Regions from separate parts of the Homo sapiens genome. Here region 2 is linked to region 1. The links come from fine-mapping of genetic effects on gene expression. Tissue or cell type: whole blood. Region 1 holds a variant in brackets; the other region holds the start of a gene. All regions are shown on one strand. Distances are between the middles of the regions.

Region 1 (8,099 bases):
AAATACAAAAAATTAGCTGGGTGTGGTGGCAGGCGCCTGTAGTCCCAGCTACTCAGGAGGCTGAGGCAGGAGAATGGCGTCAACCTGGGAGGTGGAGCTTGCAGTGAGCCAAGATCGCGTCACTGCACTCCAGCCTGGGAGACAGAGTGAGACTCCATCTCAAAAAAAAAAAAAAAGAAAAAGAAAAGAAACCCCCTTTCCTCACATAAATGAATGTGACCATCATTTTCTTCAAGGCTGATGGTAAGGGAGACCCTCTTAGCTTCACCCTCTGTCCTGTTTCAAGGACTCCCTTTGTAGGTACCCACCACCTGGGTCTCCTTCTCTGTGATGACCCCCAGAGCTTGGCAGCGAGTAGTATGCACCTTCCTGGAAACAGGGAACACCTGCCAGGAACAAAGGAGTCTCAGTGAGGTCCCAGATCCCTCCAAGACCATCCTTGAAGGCATGGCAAGAAGTAAAAGATGTAAAGGGTAGGATGGTCAAGGGTGTAGCATACCTTTCGGCCCAGTAGCTGGTTGGAGAGTGTTGACTTCCCTGCATTCGGGGCTCCCAGGAGGACCACTCGTAGGACCCGGGAATTCTCAGGCATATCAGGGTGATGGACCAAGAGGACATCCTGCTCATCTATGTGCAAGTGGGAAGAAGCATGAGACACAGTGGAATCTGGATTTCCTGTCAAGTGCTTGTTCCTGCCCACCCACAAAGGGAGCAGGGGTACAAAATTAGTGCACCAGGTTGAAGTCACCTAGAGCTGACTTTGAGACTTTGGCCCTTAATTTACATTAATTTATAAAGTAACTCCCTGAGCCCTTTAGTTTTCTCATATGTAAAAGTGAGTTGATATTAACAGTACCTACTTACCAGCTTATAATTTTTTTGATGACTAGCAATTGTGTAAAACAACTCAGCACAATACCTGGCACTTAATAATTACTGCATGTAATTATAATGTATAGCTGTGCCTGAGAAGTGAATGTACATGAAAGCAAGCTGGATTACACAAAGCCAGATATTTCCTCAGCTCTCATTCTCTCACCCTACTAAGGGTGCTATGAAGGCCCTGCAAGCTTTCCCAGTCTTTTTTTTTTTTTTTCCTGAAGGAGGGACGGGAGGAAGGGCTAAGGGTCAAGAAGGGAGAGGGCCCAGTCTTTTTATATTATCTTCTTATGACACCATTTTGCAATGACCAGTTTGTGTCCAGTCTCCAATACCGGACACTGTTTGAAGAATAAAGTGTGCTGTTTTCCAGGTGTAACTGTGTCTTAACAAGAAGATGAGGCCCAACATGCATTTACTGGATCAAATTTGCTTCCCATGTCGGGGTGCAGAGCCATAGTTCCACTTTGTGGCCCTTCAATCTCATGCTCTTTAGTGAGCGTCTCTGGTTGTGACCAGATCGTTTCCTTCTCCCACTCAAACTGTTATTTCTCTCCTGAGAGATTTTTCACTGCTCCTCCCTGTCAGGGCCTCAAAATTGTTTTCTATAAAATAGAATCAAAGACAGTATCCCCAGAAACCTTTCAATACTAAAAACATGACAGTTCCGAGCAAACCTATCAGGGCGCTTTACCTCTGTTCATGGACACCGCGGGGACGCAAGGAGTCACCGAACTGTCGGGCTGAGAGAATCCGAGGAAGTGGTCCAGGGCAGAGCCCTGGCCATTACTGCGAGAAGCCGAGGCCAAGCGGGGACCAGAGAAAGCGGACCCCGCGACGCAGGACACGCACCTCCGTTGGAAGCCTAAGAGTGAGGAAAAAGGGATCACCCGCTCCCTCGCGACATGAGGGCCCACCTGCCAGACTCTTAACACCGATTGAACAAGCCTAGCCCCGCGCCAGCTGGGGGCAGCCATTACAGCCGCAAGGCACTGCGGGAACCGACCAGGAGCGCTCCTACGATTGAACAGAGCGGCTGACGAACCAGCGAGTAGGAGAGAGGTAGGTCTGCCCAAATTGAAAGCCGAGACACATGGGATGTGGGCGGGAGGAGGAATTGCTCTGGAGACTGGTGGAGGCTAAGGAAAGGGGAAAATGTGTATTTAGAGTCTGTGCAAGCATGACGGTAGTTTTGGACTCCCATACACAACGTATTTTTTTCTTCTGCCAAAGTTTTGTAAACGGCCCTTCTGGCCATGTCTCCTAAAAGACTACATTTCCCATGAGGCCAAATAGCAGAAATCGTCCTCCCATCGAGGGAGGAATGGTTGTGGGAGTGGGAGGGGGCACTGTTCCGCCTGTCCCCGTAAGGGTTTTGTTGTTGTTTGTTCCTAGTCCTTTCCATCCTTTGGCCTGCAGGATCCTCTCCCAGCCTTAATTTGGCTTGCCCTAGAGGTCAGCGGTGGCCCCGGGCTGTCTGCACCTTTGCTTTAGGCTAGGTTCCTGGAAGGAGTGGTCCTTGGGTCGGTGTTTGGGATGAAGAGCAGGTCTGGATTTCCCTCCTGTAAGCCTTGGCTACTGTCTACTATCTGAGGTCATTCCTTTATGGAGAACAACCAGAGGGTTTGCAAAGGAGGAAGAAGTGGCTTAGCCACCTAAGGTCTCCTAGACCGCTCTAGCAGCCGGAGAAACTCATTTACCTTGCTCTGTTTGAGGCCTTGAGCCCTCTTCATCCTTTGTAGCCTCTAAATCAAACACTTGAAACAGAGAGCTGGGCGCGGTGGCTCACGCCTGTAATCCCAGCACTTTGGGAGGCCGAGGCGGGCGGATCACGAGGTCAGGAGATCGAGACCATCCTGGCTAATACGGTGAAACCCGGTCTCTACTAAAAATACAAAAAATTAGCCGGGCGTGGTGGCGGGCGCCTGTAGTCCCAGCTACTCAGGAGGCTGAGGCAGGAGAATGGCGTGAACCTGGGAGGCGGAGCTTGCAGTGAGCTGAGATTGCACCACTGCACTCCAGCCTGGGCGATAGAGCGAGACTCCATCTCAAAAAAAAAAAAAAAAAAAAGAAACAGAGATAAACTTTGGTAGAGGGGGTGTTGAGGAAGGAAGGTTCTTAGAGTCAGTGCTCATTCTGTCACCCAGGCTGGAGTGCAGTGGCATGATCATAGCTCACTGGAGCCTGAAACTCTTGGGTTCAAGCGATCTTCCAGTTTCAGCCCTCTTGAGTAGCTAGGACTACAGGCACATGCTAACATGCCTGACTATGGAGGAAGATGTATAAAGCATCCACTAGCAAGCTCTGTCCTGTGCTGGGAATACATCAGTGAACAAAACAGACAGAAATCTCTATCACGGGATTTCAGGGACCCCATCTCTAAAATAACAATAGCAACAAAAATACAACACAATACAGTATAACAACTATTTATATAGCACTTACATTGTATTAGATATTATAAGTAATCTAGAGACTTTAAGATGACTTAAAGTCATCTCTTACTACAAGAGAATCAGCAGATTTTGGTATCCATAGGATGGGAGGGTGGAAATTATGGTATCTAAATTCCCTGGGAAGACACCACTGTATATTCTGGCTATCCTCAATTTCTCTTCTCCCATTCTTTCTTTTATTTTTATTTTTTTGAGACAGGGTCTTGCTCTCTCACCCAGACTGGAGTGCAGTGGTGCAATCATGGCTCACTACAGCCTCGACCTCCCAGTCTCAAGCGTTCCTCCCACCTCAGCCCTGCTAGTAGCTGTGACTACAGACCTGCCGCTGCCATGCCTAGTAATTCTTTTTTTTTTTTTTTTTTGAGACAGAGTTTCACTCTTGTTGCCCAGGCTTCAGTGCAATGGTGCAATCTTGGCTCACTGCAACCTCTACTTCCCGGGTTGAAGTGATTTTCCTGCCTCAGCCTCCCGAGTAGCTGGGATCACAGGCATACACCACCATGCCCGGCTAATTTTGTATTTTCAGTAGAGACGGGGTTTCTCCATGTTGGTCAGGCTGGTCTTGAACTCCCGACCTCAGGTGATCCGCCCACCTCAACCTCCCAATGCGCTGGGATTACAGGCGTCAGCCACCTCGCCCAGTGCTAATTTTTAAATCTTTTGCAGAGACAGAGTCTCACTATGTTGCCCAGGCTGGTTACGAACTCCTTGCCTCAAGTGATCCTCTGCCTTGGCCTCCCCAAGTGCGAGTTTACAGGCATGAGACACCATGCTTGGCCTTTCCCCAGATATTTTTTTCTTCAGTTGGTTGAATTCCTGGATGCTGAACCCTTGGATATTGAGGACCAGTATTGAGCAGGAGAGGGCTGTGGGGTTAACAGAGGATTTTCTTTTCTTTTTTAAGAGGAAAATTTTATTCTTACTGAGATGGAGTCTGGCTCCCCTAGGCTGGAGTGCAATGGTTGAATCTCACTGCAACCTCCACCTCCCAGACCCAAGCAATCCTCCCTCTTCAGCCTCCCAAGTAGCTGGGACTACAGATGCGGGCCACCACATCCGGCTAATTTTTTGGTAATTTTTTTGTACAGATGGGGTTTCACCATGTATTCCAGGTTGGTCTTGAACTCTGCCTACTCCATCTCCCAAAGTGCTGAGATAACAGGCGTGAGTCACTGTACCTGGCCTGAACATTTTTTTTTGGAGACAGAGTCTCGCTCTGTCGCCCAGGCTGGAGTGCAGTGGCACGATCTTGGCTCTGCCTCCCGGGTTCAGGCCATTCTCCTGCCTCAGCCTCCCGAGTAGCTGAGACTGCAGGCGCCCACCACCATGCCCGGCTAATTTTTTGTATTTTTAGTAGAGACGGTGTTTTACTGTGTTAGCCTGGATGGTCTCGATCTCCTGACCTCGTGATCCACCCGCCTTGGCCTCCCAAAGTGCTAGGATTGCAGGCGTGAGCCACCGCGCCAGGCCACGTTGCTTTTTTTAATTAAAAAAAAATTTTTTTGAGCCACAGTCTCACTCTGTTGTCTGAGCTGGAGTGTAGTGGTTTAATTTTGGCGCACTGCAACCTCCACCTCCTGGGCTCAGGTGATTCCCCCATTTTAGCCTCCCAGGTAGCTGGGACTACAGATGTGCCTGACCACGCCCAGCTAATTTCTGTTTTTGGTTTTTTTTTTTTTTTTGAGATG[G/A]AGTCTTTCTCATTGCCCAGGCTGGAGTGCAGTGGTGCGATCTCAGCTCACTGCAACCTCCACCTCCCTGGTTCAAGTGATTCTCCTGGCTCAGCCTCCCGAGTAGCTGGGATTACAGGTGCCCGCCACCACACTGGCTAATTTTTGTATTTTTAGTAGAGACAGGGTTTCGCCATGTTGGCTAGGCTGGTCTCAAACTCCTGACCCGGTGATCTGCCCGCCTTGGCGTCCCAAAGTGCTGGGATTACAGGGATGAGTCACTGCACCTAGCCTAATTTCTGTATTTTTTATAGAGACAGGCTGTCACCATGTTGCCCAGGTTGGTCTTTTGTTTGTTTGTTTGTTCGTTTGAGACTCCCAGGCTGGAGTGCAATGGCATGATCTTGGCTCACTGCAACCTCTGCCTCCCGGGTTCAAGCTATTTTCCTGCCTCAGGCTCCCAAGTAGGTGGGGTTACAGTCTTCTGCCACCACGCCCGGCTAATTTTTTGTATTTTTAGTAGAGATGGGGTTTCACCATGTTGGCCAGGCTGGTCTCGAACTCCTGACCTCAGGTGATCCACCCACCTCGGCCTCCCAAAGTGCTGGGCTTACAGGTGTGAGCCACCATGCCTGGCTTGGCCCAGGCTGGTCTTGAACTCCTGGGCTCAAGTAAGCCATCTGCTTTGACCTCCCAAAGTGCTGAGATTACAGGTGTGAGTTACTGCCCCTAGCCTTGGAACATTTTTTTGTTTTGTTTTGTTTTGTTTTGAGATGGAGTCTCCCTCTGTCGCCCAGGCTGGAGTGCAGCGGTGCGATCTCAGCTCACTGCAACCTCCACCTCCTGGGTTCAAGCAATTCTTCTGCCTCAGCCTCCTGAGTAGGTGGGATTACAGGCGCACCCCACCAAGCCCGGCTAATTTTTGTAGTTTTAGTACAGACGGGGTTTCACCATATTGGCCAGGCTTGTCTCAAACTCCTAACCTTGTGATTTGCCCACCTTGGCCTCCCAAAGCGTTGGGATTACAGGTGTGAGCTGCCATGCCTGGCGGAACATTTTTTTACAATTTTTGATTTTTATAGAAAGAACCTGTTCAAAATTGGTCAGACACTGCACACGAGAAGTTTCTAGAACCACAATGATGAAAACAACAAAAACCGACAGACAGAAGAAAATAGGCAAACAGACAGAACCTACAAACAGAACAAACAGAACAAAAATACCCGAGACTAAACTGTTTCAAAATCAAGGTCCCAGTTGACCAAAGGATTCTAAAGAAACTCATGTGGCCGGCCGGGCGCGGTGGCTCAAGCCTCTAATCCCAGCACTTCGGGAGGCCGAGGTGGGCGGATCACAAGGTCAGGAGATCGAGACCATCCTGGCTAACACGGTGAAACTCTGTCTCTACTAAAAATACAAAAAAGCCGGGCGTGGTGTCAGGCACTTGTAGTCCCAGCTACTTGGGAGGCTGAGGCAGGAGAATGGCGTGAACCCAGGAAGCGGGGCTTGCAGTGAGCCGAGATCGCACCACTGCACTCCAGCCCGGGCGACAGAGCAAGACTCTGTCTTAAAAAGAAAAAAAAAAAGAAACTCATATGGCCAAGGGTGAGGAGACTCCAATGCCTGAGCAAGTACCCAGAGTGGAAGGAAAAACAGTTCAGAAATTCAAATCGCAATCCCTGCCCGCTGGCCCCTCATGCTATCAAGAGTGAGGCAAAGGGCTTCACAGCTTTATGGGGCAGAGAAGAGAGTGATGACAATAGGACAATAGCTTAAATAATGGGAGGAGGGGGAATTTTTTTTTGAGACAGAGTTTCACTCTTGTTGGCCAGGTTGGAGTGCAATGGCATGACCTCGGCTCACTGCAACCTCTGCCTCCTGGGTTCTAAGTGATTCTCCTGCCTTAGCCTCCTGAGTAGTTGGGATTACAGGCATGCGCCACCACGCCTGGCTAATTTTTTGTATTTTTAGTAGAGACGGGGTTTCTCCATGTTGGTCAGGCTGGTCTCGAACTCCCAATCTCAGGTGATCCGCCCTCCTCGGCCTCCCAAAGTGCTGGGATTACAGGCGTGAGCCACTGCGCCTGGTGAGGAGGGGAATTTTTACATTTCAACTTTTTGTTTTCTCTTCCCTTATAGGGAAAGAGGAGAGAGTGGTAGCTTGAAGTTAAGGAGAAAACAGTGATTTTTTTTCTTCTTCTTTAATGTAGAAAACATCTAGGAATGGCAGGCTGTAATGAAAAAAATGCCAAATTTGGCCACTTCCTAAAGAGGAGGTGGGCGCTTGTGTGGGTTGGTTATGAGAGTTACCAACCTTGGGTGTTGCAGCTTCTTGGAAGAAAACACTCCAGATACAAAGATTTGAGGGTGAGAGAGTAGAAGGGGGGCCAGAATGGGCAACCCTTAAGTGGTACCAAAATTAGCTGCGGCCTGCTCCCTGCTGGTGAGTTCCTGGAGTGTAGAGAATAGCAGGGAAGGAATTGGGGTAGAAGAGAAAATAAGTTGATATGCTGATTTAAAAAAAACAACTCTACTCAAGGCTCCATGGCCCCGGGTCCGAAGAGTAGAAAATCGCTAAGTGTCAATTACAGTGCTTTCTTGGGTCATCCCCCACTTTTTTTTTTTTTTTTTGAGACGGAGTCTCGCTGTCTCCCAGGCTGGAGTGCAGTGGCGCAATCTCGGCTCACTGCAAGCTCCGCTTCCCGGGTTCTCGCCATTCTCCTGCCTCAGCCTCCCCAGTAGCTGGGACTACAGGTGCCCGCCACCACGCCCGGCTAATTTTTTGTATTTTTAGTGGAGACGAGATTTCACCATGTTAGCCAGGATGGTCTCGATCTCCTAACCTCGTGATCCTCCCGCCTCGGCCTCCCAAAGTGCTGGGATTATAGGCGTAAGCCACCGCGCCCGGCCGGGTCATCCCCCACTTAACATGAGCTCAGTTCTGGTGGGGAATCAGTGCTGCCAGGACTAGGGGTATGGGCTGGTGGCCCAGTCTAGACTCTTGGCTCCCAGGGGAGAGGGGAAGGTGGCGCCCCCTGCTGGAGACTATATGACAACAACATATATTCCTATATTTGAACCACTGCGGGTCTTCTGAG
Region 2 (8,099 bases), 140 kb after region 1:
CTGGGATTACAGACATGCGCCACCATGCCCGGCGAATTTTCTATTTTTAATAGACGCGGGGTTTCTCCATGTCACTCAGGCTGGTCTCGAACCCCTGACCTCAAGTGATCCGCCCCCCCTCGGCCTCCCAAAGTGCTGGGATTACAGACGTGAGCCACCGCGCCCGGCCTCTGGGCTGATCCTGCCAGTTTTGTAAATGCAGCAGAAACAATCTCCTCATACTTCCAATTAGAGAAGCACACTGGACACAATTTGCGTTTGAGAAACCATCACGCAGAGTGAGTGAATTTCCAAATTACCAATGGAGAATACCCAAATCTTTTCATGGGTACAGGGGGCAGTACTGACTTGTTTCTCCTGGGAGCGCTCTTCCGAGGATATTTGGGCTGTCTCCGGAGTCGCAGTGTCTTCGGCCGCCGGAAGGTGGGTGACGTGCGGATCTTCTTCTTTTTGTGGCTGTGGACACCTTTCAACACTGCCTTCTTGGCCTTTAAAGCCTTCGCTTTGGCTTCAGCTTTAGGAGGGGCAGGAGCTGGGAGAAAAGGAAAGAAAACGTGGGTGCGGGATTTAGAAATCGGTCACTTCCGGCCCCAAGAACTGCAGTGGGCCACCCTGGCCACAGGTGCATCAGTGGTTCCTTTGAAGACATCACAAGTGTCAGGAGATTAAAACTTTTCCATCATATGCACGATACCAGAGGCGAAAGCGACCAACTCTAAGTAACTCCAGGGATACGACTATGAAACAAAGTAGCACTGAATGAACGCTTGATACTTTCCAGAAAATGTCCTACGAATTTTACACATACCCCATCGCAAAACCACGCTGCGGAGAGAGGGGCGGGTAATGTAGCCCGGTTGAACATGAACCAGAAGGAAAATGGTTAAAGCTGAGGGCACTAATTCCTTACAGGCCCGGGGACATGGAGCTCCAACCAGTGGATGCATGTAGCTTCCCAGAACCGAATGTCTGGCCCTCCCTGGCGGATGATGCCTGCCGCGTTGCCCCCCCCCAACTCCCTCTACCGGAACTCAGCCCACGAGGCTGGGCCCACGCGGCCCACGTATACTGCAGCGTGTCCGAAACGCAGGGAGCAGCCCCGGAGCAGAGCCCTCAGGGCTTAGCCCAGCAGCCGTGTTCCCAATTCGTTCGCTCTGCGGCGCGGCAATCCCCGGTAAACCAGCTGCGGCCCCATCACCAACACACACCTTCCTTCTTCGCTTTCGGCGCCATCTTGTGAAAAGGGTCTCCAATGCTCGTTCCCACGGGCTTATAGCGCCAAAGAGCACTAAAGACTCGCGATGCTTTGTACTTAGAGCTGATTGGGTAATTTGCAGAGCGGCGCCCTCTGGGAACGGTAGTTAGGTTTAATTTCTTTTTCGTGCGTGAACAAACATGCGCCACTCCTCCCCTCAAAGGCACTAAAGCTTCATGGGGGTTGTAGTTTTTTGTTTTTTGTTTTTTGTTTTTTTTTTGAGCGCTCTGTCGCCCAGGCTGGAGTGCAGTGGCGCGATCTCGGCTCACTGTAAGCTCCGCCTCCCGGGTTTACGCCATTCTCCTGCCTCAGCCACCAGAGTAGCTGGGACTACAGGCGCGTGCCACCATGGGGATTGTAGTTTTTTGAAGACACGCGTTTATTTGCTCAGGCCAGCGGACGGCGTAGCCGGCTGGCGCTCGGGTCTGGTCCCGGGAGCTTCCTATCTTGAGCAACTGCCAGTCTCAGGGAAGAGGATTGCCATGCCAGGAGGCAGGAACGCTGCCAAGAGGAAAGAACACATTTGGATTGACTCGGGAGTTAGATACAGCTAAGTTCTAGAGTGCTGGAGCAGGATTTGCTCGGTCGAACTGAGGTCCAGAGAGGAATGTGGTTTATCAATAACACAGTGATTTGGTGGCAGAAAAAAATCAAGTCAGGGCCGGGCGCGGTGACTCACGCCTGTAATCCCAGCACTTTGTGAGGCCGAGGTGGACGAATTGCTTCGAGCCCAGGAGTTCGAGACCACCCTGGGCAACACGGCGAAACCCTGTCTCTACAAAAGAATACAAAAATTAGCCGGGCGTGGTGGTGCGTGCCTGTAGTCCCAGTTCCTTGGGAGGCTGAGGTGGGAGGATCGCTTCAGCCCTGGAGGTCGAGGCTGCAATGAGCCATTCCAGCCTGGGTGGCAGAGTGAGACCCTGTCTCAAAATAAATAAATAAATAAATAAATAAATAATCGAGTCACGAGGGGGAAGTGTCAGAGGAAGTACAAGGCGGCCACACCTGCCCCTCTTTACCTGCGACACTGATACTGTCAAGTTTTACTGCGTTTCCTGATAATGCATTTGAAGTTCTATGAAAATTCCACACATTTCTCCAAGATTCGCTAGTTTTTCCGGTTAGTAACTTCACTCACAATCCCCTGCCCTAAACTAGTCTTCCCTTCCGTGTCCTGGTCATCTTTACATCCTCAAATTCAGCTCCAGACACAGAGAAAGGTTTCTTAACACTCAGGTTCGCTTCTCCTAAGGTGTGTGCCTAACCCATCCCCACTTGATCCTTTCTTCTTCCCTCTCCCTTCATAAAACCAGACATGTCCCCTTTGACGGTGAAATTGATTGTGCACTGCCCCCTCTTCTATCCTGCAGGACTTTGCACAAAGGAGTTGTCCCTGGGGGATAGATTCCAATGGGGCCAGAACAATGAACACCCATACCAGAGGGGAGTCCCCGCCTCCCAGAGCGGAGACCACCCCGAAGAGCAGAGTTTCCGGGTCCACTTAGCCCTTCTTTAACCTCCCTCGAGGGAACTTGATCTTCAGCCCTCCCACCTCACAATCTACACAGCAGCCTTGAAGGAAAAGACGCCAGACTTCAGACGTCTCTCTCCTCGGTGGGCACCTCATTCTAACCCTGGCACCCCCTTCGCACGCTTCCCCTCCACCATCCTCACCCCCGACCTCCCAGGGCAGAAGGGCGAGAGGGGGCAGACTCTATGAGTCACCTCCCAGGCCTGGAGTTGAGGAGGGAAGCGCCGCCTCTCCTTGGGCCCCTTCTCTCCCCCTTTCCCCTCCCTGCTGGTTCCTGGCATCGCCAGATGCTGCGCAGCAGTCTCCGATTCCCCATCACCAATTCGGCTGGGTAAGGGTCCCCATGAAGGCGCAGCCGGGTATAGAGGTGCAGGGGAGAGCAGCCTGGGGAGTCCCTATCTGGATAGGCTCCAGCCTGGGTCGGGGCGGTCCTGGTGCCCGGTGAAGCGTCAAAAGAGGGAGCCTGAGCGGGGCAACGCAGAAGGGTGGAGAGGAGGGGGTGGCGAGGGCGGGCAGCGAGGCCTGGAGCCGCCAGGAGAGGGGCGGGGGGCGGCCCTTCTCCAGGAATTTCCGGGGATCGTGTTACAGCGTTGGCGGAGCCCGAGCGGAGTGGGACTCGAGGCCCTGTAGCCGGACTGGGCCCCTCGCCCCCTCCTCCAGCGGCCTGCGGGCCTTGGCAGCGCCGCCCCTGCCCACACTGACCCCGTGTGGCGGGGCCGCTCCGCGCCCCCGGGCCGCTCTGTAATGGTAGGGCAGCCTCAGCCCCGAGATGACGTCGGGTCTCCGCGGCCCCGGGTTATTGTAGGAACCATCCGGCCCCGCGTAATCGTAGGAACTATCCGGCCCCGCGTAATCGTAGGGTCTGCGCGGGCCCGGCCCCCACCAGACGGGACTCCCCGCCCCCAATTGGCGGCCGAAGAGTCTCCTCGCCCCAGAGTCATCTTCGGGACGCCCAGGGCCCGGGTGATTTTGGGCTCGCCGCGGCCCCGGGTGATTGTTTCATCTCCGTGGCCCGCGGTGGTCGTAGCGTCTCCGAGACCGCGGACTCCCGTAGGGTCCCCGTGGCCCCGAGTTGTAGTCGGGACACCCCGGCCGCGGGTGATCGTCGGGTCTCCACGCGCCCGGGTCGCTGACGCGGATCCGGCCTCGGCGCCTTCTCAGGGCGCCCTGCAAGGCCGCAGGCAGGATGAACATTCTGGCACCCGTGCGGAGGGATCGCGTCCTGGCGGAGCTGCCCCAGGTAGGCGCCGGGGCCACGTCGGGCTTCAGTCTACAGCCCGGGGTGTGGGCGAGGAGGAGGCGGCACCAGACCAGTTAGAGGACTGGGCCCAGCCCTGCCACCCAGCTAGGCCTGGTGCTTCTGGGTGGTCCCTGCACTCCACCCCTACCCGGGCCGCTTGGCTGCGGGACAAGGGCCAGGAGTAGGAAGCTCCATTCTCTTCCATCCTTCCCACTAAGTGCCTGAGGAAGGAGGCCGCTTTGCACGGGCACAAAGACTTCCACCCCCGCGTCACCTGCGCCTGCCAGGAGCACCGGACAGGCACCGTGGGGTGAGTTAGGGACACCCACAACAAAGAGAGGAGGTCCCAGGAAACTCTGTAGTCATAGCGAGGGTAAACAACCACCCCCTTGGGGCTTCATTTCAGCCCCTACCAGCTATATGGTTATTTCCCCCTCTTTAAGCCCCTGTATCCCCTCCTTTTCTCCCAACAAGGTTGTTGTGAGTTCTATGAGATGGGGTTGGGTAGAAGGGTGGCAGCTGGATTTCTGAGTAGAGACTAAGGTGTCTGAAATGGGAAGGTGGTCACCTGCTCAGATCCCCACATAGCATCCATGGAGCCCCAGGGCAGGGGTCTGGCTGTGCTTACAGGGATGAGTCTTATTGTGGGTTTTAAAGGTAATACTGATAACAGTTGGCACCATTAATTAAGCATTTGCTGTGTGCCAGGCAGTGTTGGGTACTATCATCTTTATTGAATGGAAAAGTCCATCACTTAAGATATATCCTGATTTCAGACATTAAAATGCGGGGGGGAGGGTGTCTTAGAATATAGGACATTTATCTCATTTTAACCTTCACAACGACCCAGTAAAATATATACTAACTTTACTTAAATGTTTAAACTGAGGCTTAGAGAGGCTAAATAACGTGTCCAAAGTCACACAGCTAATCAGTGTGAGAGCTGGGATTCAAATTCATGTCTCTCTGCTTCTGGAGCACAAAACACTCCTCCTCCCCAGCACACCTGTCCACGCAGCTGCCTGGGATGCCTGGTGTCTATAATACCCTCAGCCTGGGTGCAGCTACCTTTCTGGACCTAGTCGGGAGCATTGGAACTCCCTAGGGTGAAAGAGCTCGTGCCCACTCCCCTTGCCCACTCTTGTGTCCAGCAGATTTAAGATCTCCAAGGTCATTGTGGTGGGGGACCTGTCGGTGGGGAAGACTTGCCTCATTAATAGGTAAGGGGGTGCTGGAGCTGAGCTGGGCAGGGTGGGGCCAAGCCTAGCCAGGTGGGCTGGCTCCAGATCACAGCATCTGGTACCCTCTCAGGTTCTGCAAAGACACCTTTGATAAGAATTACAAGGCCACCATTGGAGTGGACTTCGAGATGGAACGATTTGAGGTGCTGGGCATTCCCTTCAGTTTGCAGCTGTGAGTGCTTCCACACCCCTTCCAGCTATCCCTTCTCCCCAGCACCCACACCCCCCAAGATACATACCTGTGCTTCACTCTTCCTTCCTTCCAGTTGGGATACCGCTGGGCAGGAGAGGTTCAAATGCATTGCATCAACCTACTATAGAGGAGCTCAAGGTAAGGGGCTGGGTGAAGTGGGGTAGGTGGGTCTCAGAGTGCACATGGCTTCTCATATGGAGCTGGAAGGATTGGGGAAATGAGCAGTAGTGTCTTCCCTGTCAACCTGGGGCTGTTTCTGCCACTCTTCCAGCCATCATCATTGTCTTCAACCTGAATGATGTGGCATCTCTGGAACATACCAAGTAAGTGAGCATCCTGCAATATAATGGGAGGCTCCGGGAAGAGAGGGTTCAGAACAGAGGGGTGGTCAGGAAGAAGAAGAATGCATGTAGGACCAGAGAGGGGGTAATTGGGCCTATGAATGTCAGTGGGAGGGGCCCTGCAGACTCACTCATCCCTTACTTTCCACCTCCCATGGCAGGCAGTGGCTGGCCGATGCCCTGAAGGAGAATGACCCTTCCAGTGTGCTTCTCTTCCTTGTAGGTTCCAAGAAGGATCTGAGTGTGAGTGTGCCAGTGGGGGGACTTCCCAGCTTGGTGAGGGAATGCCCCCCTCTGACTCTGGCCTTCCCTCAGACCCCTGCTCAGTATGCGCTGATGGAGAAAGACGCCCTCCAGGTGGCCCAGGAGATGAAGGCTGAGTACTGGGCAGTCTCATCTCTCACTGGTGAGTTGGAGGCTTTAGGGCTCTGCTGTGACACTCTTGCCTGGCTCTCCTCTCACTGCTACACCTCCAGCTGTGCCCTGTGTCCCCAGACCCAGCACTGCCCCTGAGCACCTATCTGCTCTCTGTGTCAGGTGAGAATGTCCGAGAATTCTTCTTCCGTGTGGCAGCACTGACCTTTGAGGCCAATGTGCTGGCTGAGCTGGAGAAATCGGGGGCTCGACGCATTGGGGATGTTGTCCGTGAGTGCTTGCCTGGTTGAGGGTGGCAGAGGGCACAGTGAGCCTCCAATCCCTGCTTCACATATTTTCCACCCTTCTTTAGGCATCAACAGTGATGACAGCAACCTCTACCTAACTGCCAGCAAGAAGAAGCCCACATGTTGCCCATGAGGGCTGAGGAGACTGTTCAGAGACTGCCCAGCCCTAGGGCACTGTGCCACCCTCATTCCTCCAGAGCTTGACCCCTGGACATTTGCACTGACTTTATCCAGACCAAAGAGCTGCCTCTTGGTGGCAGTATTCCCACAGAGGGGTAGCTGGGATCATGCTAGTCACTTCCTGCCCCCAGGCACCGTGCCAAAGACTGGATGCCCCCTACTCCTCAGGGGACTGTCCAGGGCGCCCAGTGGTAGTGAGGGAGAGTGTCTCTGTTCTTTTGCTCAGCCTGCTGGGCCCTTTGTGTTTGAGGATGCTTAATGATTCCAGCCTCTCACTGTGCCTTATGCATTAAAATTTCTTTGTTACGAGCACTTTGGGGCTGGAGTTCTTTGTTGGGGATGATGGATGTGGAATGGGCATGACTGTGTGGCCATTTTGGCACTAGAGTCCCCTGGGGATGCTGTGCTGGCCATCCCTGGCCCCTGGGCAGGTTCAGGTAGGCTGGGAGCTGAAACATCAGTTTGGGGGCTGCACTGGGCCCTCACTGGGTGAAGTCTGAATGGCTGGCTTTGAGAGCCCTTTCCCCTGATCCTTTCCCCACACGTGTCCTCCTACTTGGTGCTTATACCCAAATTTTCACCACTGGAGAATCTTTTTCTTTTTTTCACCCTTTTCTTGCCTTCCCTTTAAGAAGTACTTTTCCAGGCAGGGTGCGGTGGCTCGTGCCTGTAATCTCAGCACTTTGGGAGGCCAAGGCAGGCAGATCACTTGGATTCAGGAGTTCGAGACCAGCCTGGCCAACATGGTGAAACCCGCGTCACCATTAAAATCCAAAAATTAGGCCGGGCGCGGTGGCTCATGCCTGTAATCCCAGCACTTTGGGAGGCTGAGGCGGGCGGATCACGAGGTCAGGAGATAGAGACCATCCTGGCTAACATGGTGAAACTAAAAATGCAAAAAATTAGCCAGGCGTGGTGGCTGGTGCCTGTAGTCCCAGCTACTTGGGAGGCTGAGGCAGGAGAATGGCCTGAACCTGGCAGGCGGAGCTTGCAGTGAGCCGAGATGGCACCACTGCACTCCAGCCTGGGTGACAGAGCGAGACTCTGTCTCATAAAAAAAAATAAATAAAATAAAATACAAAAATTAGCCGGGCGTGGTGGTGCATGCCTGTAACTCCAGCTACTTGGGAGGATGAGGCAGGAGAATTGCTTGAACTCAGGAGTTATAACCATTAACTTTTCTTTCTTTTTTTTTTTTGTTTGTTTTTTTGGTTGTTTATGCCATTAACTTTTATAAGAAAGAAAGGTGACCAAGACCCTGGCTCCCTGTTGACATCTAACCCAGAGTTCCAGAGTAGCTGGAAGCACCTCAGACATCTGGGTCAACAAAGGAGGACTTATGGCCTCGTGTCATCCTGGGAGGCTAAGGGGGTGTCCAAGTTAGAAGGCAGATTCTGGCTCCCAGTTGCCAAGTGCTCTGTCTGTTCCATTCCTGGTTCCATTCTCACCAGGATGG

Evidence for each region. PIP is the estimated chance that this variant, and not a neighbour inherited with it, causes the effect.
Region 2: it holds the start of RAB34, and the variant in region 1 is fine-mapped to the expression of RAB34 in whole blood (INTERVAL, PIP above 0.99).

The regions. Positions count from the first base shown.
Region 1 is chr17:28,848,792-28,856,890 of GRCh38, reverse strand. It overlaps ERAL1 (Era like 12S mitochondrial rRNA chaperone 1), which reads right to left and starts at 1,875. Exons shown (of 10, transcript NM_005702.4): 1 at 1,574-1,875; 2 at 500-627; 3 at 309-386. The coding sequence starts at 1,856. It also overlaps a transcript of FAM222B not described here. RefSeq lists enhancers at 1,204-1,709, 1,564-1,913, 1,710-2,216, 2,214-2,263, 2,217-2,722 and a silencer at 8,031-8,080. The variant G/A (reference allele first, on the strand shown) is at 5,024.
Region 2 is chr17:28,713,140-28,721,238 of GRCh38, reverse strand. It overlaps RAB34 (RAB34, member RAS oncogene family), which reads left to right and starts at 3,371. Exons shown (of 10, transcript NM_031934.6): 1 at 3,371-4,026; 2 at 4,245-4,336; 3 at 5,181-5,246; 4 at 5,338-5,439; 5 at 5,534-5,598; 6 at 5,732-5,783; 7 at 5,963-6,044; 8 at 6,117-6,207; 9 at 6,339-6,446; 10 at 6,529-6,955. The coding sequence starts at 3,973. The coding sequence ends at 6,596. RPL23A (ribosomal protein L23a) reads right to left here and starts at 1,254. Exons shown (of 5, transcript NM_000984.6): 1 at 1,209-1,254; 2 at 349-532. The coding sequence starts at 1,233. It overlaps SNORD42B (small nucleolar RNA, C/D box 42B), which reads right to left and starts at 689; the gene lies at 623-689. RefSeq lists enhancers at 540-699, 1,040-1,259, 1,690-1,739, 1,396-1,997, 1,998-2,598 and a silencer at 3,279-3,538.